Linked DNA regions of Homo sapiens: region 1 is linked to region 2. Evidence: fine-mapped expression QTL. A gene starts in region 2. The other region holds a variant in brackets. All regions are shown on one strand. Distances are between the middles of the regions.

Region 1 (4,394 bases), 20 kb before region 2:
GGTCTGGAAGAATTATTTTGAAGTAAGTACATTCCTTCTACTTCCTACACTATGTTAAGTGTCATCCAGTCTCCTCAAGAGAGAATGGCGGAACTTGGGGGTCAGCTGTGCTCCAGATGAAGTCAGCTCCAGGTCTTGCCCTCTTGCCTGGCTCACAGATGGATGAAGTTTTATAAAGTTCTTCTAATTATGTGCAAAACAATAAAATATAAACCAACTACTTATATGTGCTGAGTCTGCTTGGCTTTCCCAGAACGTAGACTATGGAGAGATCATGGAAATTATGGTTTAGAACTTCTCCTGTGGCTCTAACAAGGGGTTGAGCACATGACTCTTGTTACTTCTCAAATCCCAAATGTAGGCACAGAAATATGAACTGGGATTCTTTTTCTGACTTACATGTACATGAGTAGAGTCTTGTGGCTGCTATTCCTCTTGCTGAGAACACAATCAAGTAATCACCATACTTGCATTTGGAGCCATAAACCCTAAAGCCGTAACATTTAATTTTATGTAACACGATCACGCTGTAGAAGCTAATGTGATTCCCTGGAGCAGGGCGTCTTCTGTGCCAAGCCATTTTGTAGAGTCTGCTATATCAGATTTTGTTATCGTTTATGTTAAGCCTATTTTATTTAAAACTTGAGTCTGGTTTGCTTAGAGTAAATACCGTCTGCTTGCACTCAATTTCAATATGTTCTGTTTGGCAGCATTGTGCATTGTAAAGAAAAAAAAAAAGATAAAGGCTGTTTTGTGGCACACCAAGATAAGAAATAGTTTGCACATCCAGTTCTGTTGTTGAAAGTCATCTCACTCAGATAGCGAATTATCCATAATGACTTAAAAATAATAACTTCAAGAGCAGTCTTTTATTGTTAAGAGTCTTTATGTGTGCGTGTGTGTGCGTTGAGTGCTCACTCAAAATAGGGGTCCATAAATTGCTACTAATGTAGAGTGTCTGCATTTCTTGGCATTATAAAACTTCCCTAGAGGCATTTTCATAGTTGGGAACTTGGTAGCCCAGCAATTCTGAGCTTCTTGTTCTTACATTAAAATAATTTGCATAGTAGCTCCATGGTGACCTCAAATTAAGTGTCTGTGGAGAATTCTAGCTGTACTGTGAACCAGGCTGGGTCAGAAGGAAGGCTCCGTAGCTGCCAAACGCAACATCTGTGCAATGTATTTCATTGTATTCTTGCCTGGGTTTATAGGGATTCTTAGGGGCTTAAGGGAGTCGTCATGAACACTCTGAAACTGTACTTGAACTTGTGTGTGTGTGCGTGTGTTGTCTGCTTGCACATATTTGGTTATTTTTATAGGAAGAGAGTCAAAATCTGTCACAGCTCTTTAAAAGGCTCCATGAACCCACCCATTTCCCTGAAGAAAAGGACTCAGAAGCAGTGATGTAAAGAATCGTTTCTATCAACGAGAAGAGACTCCTCTTTCAGAAAGCAGGAACCATACGTAGCAGAAGTGATAACAATGACTTACTAAAAGGCACTAGACACAGTCACATGACACATAACGATGTCTCCATCAAGGATGGGCCGCACACCCAACAGTGGCCCCATGAGATGAGACTACTGTATTTTTCTGCACCTTTTCTGTGTATGCATACACAAATACTTGCCAATGTGTTACAGTTGCCTAGGGTATTCATGCTGCACAGGTTTGTAGCCTAGGAGCTATTGGCTACACCACATAGCCTGGGCATGTAGTCAACTGTACCATCTTGGCATGTGGTGACAACGCATATCTCAGACCATGTCCCATGGTGAAGCAACATCTGACTATATTGAGGTAGCCAGTGTGTGGCCTACAGGGCAGGAGACAGGCCTTAAAAGTTCTACTGCTTGGCCGGG[C/T]GCAGTGGCACCTGTAATCCCAGCACTTTCAGAGGCCAAGGAGGGCAGATTACGAGGTCAAGCGATTGAGACCATCTTGGCCAACATGGTGAAACCCTGTCTCTACTAAAAATACAAAAATTAGCTGGGCATGGTGGCACTCATCTGTAATCCCAGCTACTCGGGAAGCTGAGGTAGGAGAATTGCTTGAACCCAGGAGGCGGAGGTTGCAGTGAGCCAAGATCGTGCCACTGCTCTCCAGCCTGGCGACACAGCGAGACTTCGTCTCAAAAAAAAAAAAAAAAAAAAAAAATTCTACTGCCACTGCCTCATCATGTGCACTGAGAGAAGTCACTTCCCTTCTATAGGCCTCATTTTCCCCATCTGTAAACTGAAAAAAATGAAGGAGTTGGGCAGTGTGGCAGAGACACCTACTTGTTCATGGTATCCACTTACCCCTTCTTTCTTTTTACAAATAGAACATACACCTCCAGTGTTAGCTGAGCACATGGCCACTGGGCTAGGGACTAGGTGTTCCAATTGCCTTTGCAGGTGGGAGTGGCCATGGAATTAAGTTCCAGCCAACAGGATGTGAGAAATGACACATGCACCGACCGCATCTCCTACCACTCCTGCAGGCTGTGATGACCACCTGAAGACCTGCTGGGGAGGACGGCACTCCAGGGAGTAGCAGAGCAACCACAAGGAAGTAGCCGTGGTGTGGGACGTCCTCATGTAGCAGAATGGCCTACCTGACCTGGACCGCCTACTGCCTCTGGACTGTTAAGAGAGGATAGACACTGTCTTGGTGATACCACTTAACAGTCGTGTGCAGCATCATGACATTTTGGGCAGCAATGGACCACATGTACAATAAGATTATCACAGAGCTCAACATTCCTATTTCCTGGTGACATGGCAGCCATCATGACTTCGTAGCACAATGCATTCCTCACGTGTTTGCAGTGGTACTGGTGTAAACACACCTCCTTGCACTGTCAATCATAGAATTTAGCACATAGAATTACATACAGTACATAACACCTGATAATGATAATAAATGACTATGTTAAAAGTTTATGTACTTACTATACTTTTATCATTATTTTAAAATGTGTGCCTCCTATTTATGCAGAAAAAAGTTAGTTATGAAGCAGCCTCAGGCAGGTCCCCCAGGAGGGATTCTAGAAGAAGGCATTGTTATCCTAGGAGATGACAGCTCCATGCATGTCACTGCCCCTAAGACTGTCCAGTGAGCAAGATGTGGAAGCAGAAATTGATGATCCCGACCCTGTGAGACCTAGGCTAATGTGCGTATTTGTGTCTTAGTTTTTAACACAAAGTTCTAAAGAAATTTTTAAGTAGAAAAACGCTTATAGATTCAGGTTATAAAGACAGAAAGTGGCCAAGTGTGGTGCCTCGTGCCTGTAATCCCAACACTTTGGAAGGCTGAGGTACACAGAAGGATCACTTGAGTCTGGGAGTTTAAGACCAGCCTGAGCGACATAGCAAGACCCCATCTCTACCAAAAATACAAAAAATATATATATATCTGGGCATGATGGCATATGCCTGCCATCCCAGCTATTCAGAAGGCTGAAGTGGGAAGATTACTTGAGCCCAGGAGTTGGAGACTGCTGTGGGCTATGATCATGCCACTGCACTCCAACCTGGGCAAAAGAGTAAGATCCCATCTCAAAAAAAAAAAAAAAAAAAGAAAGAAATTTTGTATAGCTGTACAGTATGTTTGTGTTTTATGCTATGTTATTACAAAAGAGTCAAAAAGTTTAAAAATATTAAAAAGTTCATAAAGTAAAAAAAGTTATAGTAAGTTAAGGCTAATTTATTATTAAAGAAATAAAATATGTTTTTATAAATTGAGTGTAGCCAAAGTGTACAGAGTTTCTGAAATCTAAAGTATAATACAGTCATGTCCTAGGCCTTCCCATTCACTCACCAGCTACTCACTCATCCAGAGCAACTCTCCAGTCCTGCAAGCTCCATTCATTGTAAGTACCCTATCCAAGTTTATTATTGTTTATTTTATACCTTATTTTTATAGTCCCTTTTCTGTATTTAGATAGATTTAGATACACGAATACTTTGTGTTAACAAATGCATTGTGTTACAGTTGCCTATGGTGTTCAGTACAGTAGCATGCTGCACAGGTTTGTAGCCTAGTAGCAGTAGGCTAGACCATGCAGCCTAGGCATATAGTAGGCTTCACCACCTAGGGCTGTGTAAGTATTCTCTATGATTTGTGCAGCAATGTTTGCACAATGCTGAAATTGCCCAACACACGTTTCTCAGAATGTATCCCCGTCATTAAGCAATGCATGACTATGTTTTGAATTTGGGGATTCCTTTGGTTCATCAGCTTAATCCATATCTAAACAAATGCAGACTCGTTGAGGCCAAGGTCATCATTGTCATCGTCATCCTTCCTTGCCTCCAGAACGATATAGGTACCTAACAAATGTTCAGCAAAATGAAAGAATGAATGAACAGCTGAATGGTTTTAATTGGCATGCCAGGAATTTTATGGGGATGATT
Region 2 (4,394 bases):
GTCAATGTATCATGCATAGGATGCGGAGGAACCCTGGAGAGGGCCAGAAAGCAGATAGAATTCCCGGATGCACACTGGCATGCATTGGGCTCGGCAGGCAAGCTTGTGTGTGTTGGGCTCGGCACAGGCTGTTTCTCCTTGTCTCCACCTGCCCTGGGAATCAGCACGAGGCACCCTCTCCTCTGGTGTTCTTCCCATTCATCCCACTCCTGGCTTGGTAGAGTGAGAGGTGGCGATTCTCTTGCACCTGGCCCAGTGCACAACAGCCTCATTCCTTGTCTCCCCACTGACTGTGACTCCTCAGGGGCCCAGCATCCACCATATCTCAGTTGGTACCAGTGACAGCTTATGGCTACAGCCACTTACTCATTCATTCTCATGCTCAATGGGAAGGCCTATAAGCCTCTTTGCAGCTCTGAGCTCAGCTGATTTACCCAAGAAGTCCCATGAATAACCACACACGGTATTGCGGGTGGAACAAGGTCAAGTCTCCCAGCAGTACATTTATCTCACAAATGACTCCTGTTTTCCAGCACAGCAATGTCTCCTTGATCTAATGGTGCAGGACTTGTTTGGTCCATGGGCTTGTTTTTCTTCCCTGCTCTGAATTTAAGCCCATTCCTTGAGCACATCCAGAAGCCCTAGAGCATTTTAAAGCAGACCTAGAGTCCCCAGCTGGGGCCAGCTATTCTGCCAGGGAGGCCCATGCCCCAGGCACTATCATGGAGGGAGTGTGGAGACTCCTTCACCCAGAAGAAAACACATCTGTGCCTCCACTTGCCACCTCCAAGCACACACAGTTCTGCCCGAAGGCCGCGGTCCCTATGTCATCTTGCTAAAGGTGTTTAGAGAACACATTCTCACCTACAAAACAGGAAGGCACAGCTTACAGTCCCTGCCCAGGGCTTTTACCACCAGAAACTAGATAAATAAAACACTGGGGCTGGAAGGAACCTCAGACATCGCCCAGCGTGATGCTATCCTGTTTACAGACAGGGAATGGAGGCCAGGTCGAGAAGGGATTTCTCCTGGCAAATACAGTGGGGACAAGCTGGAGCCGGGCTTCATCCCTGTGGTTGATCCTCAGTCCAGCCCTGTGTCCAGGATGCCATGCTCTGGTTCACCCATCCCTGTGGGCTGCATCTTTGGTTGTTTTGTTCTGGGAATGTGGAGCTTGCCCAGGATGCTCCCCTTTCCTCCTTTGTTGGAGGAAGCTTTGGAGGCAGGAAAGTCCAGACATAGCTCCAGGGCTCCACTGCTCTTCCCAGCTTCACATCCCCCGAGGCCCTCAGTTTCCTCGCCTGGGAATTGGGAATAACCCCATTCACTTCATTGGCTGGCTGTGAGGGTCATAGCGTTCCCAATGGCAGCTGGCCTGGTGGCTGCTGGTATGTAAGTCATGTTCAGTGTTAAGGAAGAATCTTCTCCCTTTTGACAGTTCCTTCTTGCTTGTTGCCTGATCTTGGGCAGCCTGAGGACCCCAACTCATCTCTGCCTGCAAGAGTCCTGCTCCTCACCCATCCTGCCCTGTGGGATGGAAGAATGGCAGGAGGACAGGGCCTGAAGTCTCATCCCAACCCATGTGCCTCCAGCTTTGTGACCTCCAGCAAGTTGCTGGAACTCTTGAGCCTCAGTTTTCCCACCTGGAAAATGGGACTCTTTTCTGTGGCACCTACCTCACAGAGACAATTGCTGGATTTAACAGAGACAGTGCTATTAGCTCCGATCACTTGGAAACACACAATGGGCCTGGCATGAGGCTTGCTCAGTCATGCTATATCCTGTTGATTCCTCACTATGGCCTTTTGAGTGAGCCACTCTCACCAGCCTCATCTCACAGATAAGGAGATGGAGGAAACACTGAAGAAACTTGCCCAAGGTCAAAGCCAGAAGGCGGTGACCCTGCTTTGCACCCACGGCGTCTAAGTGGAGAGCCTAGACCTTTACCTGCCACTGTCTTGGGAAGTTAGCCCTGAGGGAGATGCACTTCTTGAAAACTAACCCTTCCTGAGGGTCTGCTCTCCCTCGGGGCCTGTGCTGGGAGCTTGAGGTAGAAGAGGGTGGGGGTACTCACACTCCCCACACATACGGCCGCTCAGTGAGCCCATCCTCCGGACCGAGAGACACACACGGCTTCTGAGAGGCTGGGGGCCCTGGCCCAAGGCTCACCTACCTGGTTAGCGATTGATGGACGAGGACACCGGTGGCCTGACCGCAGCTCTGCATCCCTGCTCCACTGCGGGCTGCCTGGAGGGAGGGATGCTCAGTCATCCCCTGCTAGTCCCTTTCCCTCCTGGCACTATATCCATTTTGACAAACCGTGCCATCCAAACCCAGGCCTGACTGCCCACTCCTCTCCTCTGACCCTCCCCTCCTTCCATCTCTGTCCTCCTCTTATCCCCCACCCCTCTCCATCTGCTGTTCCTGCCTTTTCAGGAAAAGTCCCTGTGCAGAAAGAAATTTCTTGCTGAAAGTGTGGGGGAGGCAAAGCCACCCTCTGTCACCCCCTCCTCCAGGCAGCCCCTCCTCTTAACCTGGGGCTTTCGTGTCTGAGAGGATTCCTGTCCCGACCCTGCCCGGTGGGCGTGCTGGCTTCCTCTCTGCCACCCTGGATGGACCGCAGCCTGCGCTGGCCCCACAGGAAGTGGAGGCGTGGAGCCGCCCTGGACCACCCCCAGCCTGCATAAAGGGGCGGTCGGCGAGGCTGCACCAGCGCCTGGCACCATGAGGACGCCTGGGCCTCTGCCCGTGCTGCTGCTGCTCCTGGCGGGAGCCCCCGCCGCGCGGCCCACTCCCCCGACCTGCTACTCCCGCATGCGGGCCCTGAGCCAGGAGATCACCCGCGACTTCAACCTCCTGCAGGTCTCGGAGCCCTCGGTGAGTCCCCCGCCCGCTCAGGACAGGGGTGCATGGCAGACCCAGTTCTTAAACCCTTGCCTTTACACGAAAAAAAAAAGAGAGAGAGAGAGAAAAGGATATTTTTCTTTTCTAGTAAATGTAAATCTCAGGAGTATTTGTGTTTTATTCATCTCCTTTTAAATATGATACCAATGGTTTGCTTTCTTCAAAACACAAGAAAAAGTAAAGACAACACAATTTTTGTGACTTACTAGCAAATATCAAAGGATCTGTTGTAAAATGTAAAAAAAAAAAAAAAAAAAAAAAAGAAAAAAGAAAAAAAAAGGAGTGGGAGGATGGGGAGAAAAACAGCTCCCCATCAGAGTTAAGGAGGACGGAGGAATGAAGCTTGTGTATTGCTTTTGTTAGCCTAGTGAGGAGTGTGCCCTAAGAGGTGGCTCACAGAACTGGCCTCCGCCCCTCATCTGCTGAGGGACCCGGGCAAATTTCTCAGCCTCTGCCTTTCAGTTTTCTTGTCTGTAAAATGGGATGACAGTAGCACCCCTCCCTTTAGAGTGGCTTTGACGATCAAAGGCAGGTGTGAACACAGGCAGGGCTCACAGAGCCAAGCCTACAGGAACAAGTACTCAACAGATGCCAGCTGATGTGAGCACGATCTTCAGAGGCAGATCTGGGGACTCAGAGAGGGGAAGACCCGGGAGGGCTTTTGGGGACTAGAACCCAGGCCTCTGCCTGCTTCTCCGTCGAAACAAAATGCATTAAACTTCATTAAAAGCTTTTGTAAAGTTTCAAAGTGTCTTTTAATCACTTGCAAATGCTTCAAACAAAACATAATGTTTCTCAGATGTTGGGGTTTACAAAAGCCTAGCTAACACCTTCTTGGTATTTTCTTTTTAAAAGTTAAATAACATGTATTTTTTCCCTAATTATAAAAGTATTGTACTTTGTAGAACAGTTGGAAAATAAAGTACAAAGAAGAAAAAAAATCTTGCTTGTAATTCTACCACCTAGAGGTAGCTGCTGCCGTAGCATTGTGGAGGATCATATTTCAGCTTTCTGTCTACATATAGGTATTCAAATACGTGTGTGTTGTGTGTGTGTGTGTGTGTAAACAAAATTTGGGTCAAACAGCACAAGCAGTTTTGCAACTTACTTTTTAATGACACTATCAAATAAGTTCATTTTTGTTTTAACATTTTGTTGTACAGTTTCACCACAATTTACCCACAAGTTTCTTGTTATCGAATATAGACAGCAATCATCTTTTAAAGGAATCTGATTTTAAAAGGTTTAAAAAGTTCAGAGGCTCTGAACCACAGAGCGGGAAGAAAGTGGAAAGATTATGCATTCTAAATCTCTAATTTCACAACTGAGGACTGAAGGAAGGCACTTGCCCATGGTCACACGGGGATTACTGAGAGGGCAGAGCACGAGGGCTTTTGCCCTTCAGCCCTGCGCAAAAACGGAAGCCCAATATAGAAATATAAAAGTATGCAAATTTATGCACTTCGATATTACTATATTATACACTATAT

The links. PIP is the estimated chance that this variant, and not a neighbour inherited with it, causes the effect. A credible set is the group of variants that fine-mapping cannot tell apart.
Region 1: its variant is the best candidate, but not a certain one, in a credible set for the expression of CYTL1 in whole blood (TOPMed, PIP 0.58).

The regions. Positions count from the first base shown.
Region 1 is chr4:5,038,149-5,042,542 of GRCh38, reverse strand. It overlaps LOC107986256 (a long non-coding RNA gene), which reads left to right. Exons shown (of 3, transcript XR_007058005.1): 2 at 1-22; 3 at 2,480-2,921. It also overlaps a transcript of STK32B not described here. Among named protein-coding and RNA genes, the nearest start is that of STK32B, 11 kb to the left of the region's middle. The variant C/T (reference allele first, on the strand shown) is at 1,863.
Region 2 is chr4:5,017,776-5,022,169 of GRCh38, reverse strand. It overlaps CYTL1 (cytokine like 1), which reads left to right and starts at 2,712. Exons shown (of 4, transcript NM_018659.3): 1 at 2,712-2,877. The coding sequence starts at 2,725. It also overlaps a transcript of STK32B not described here.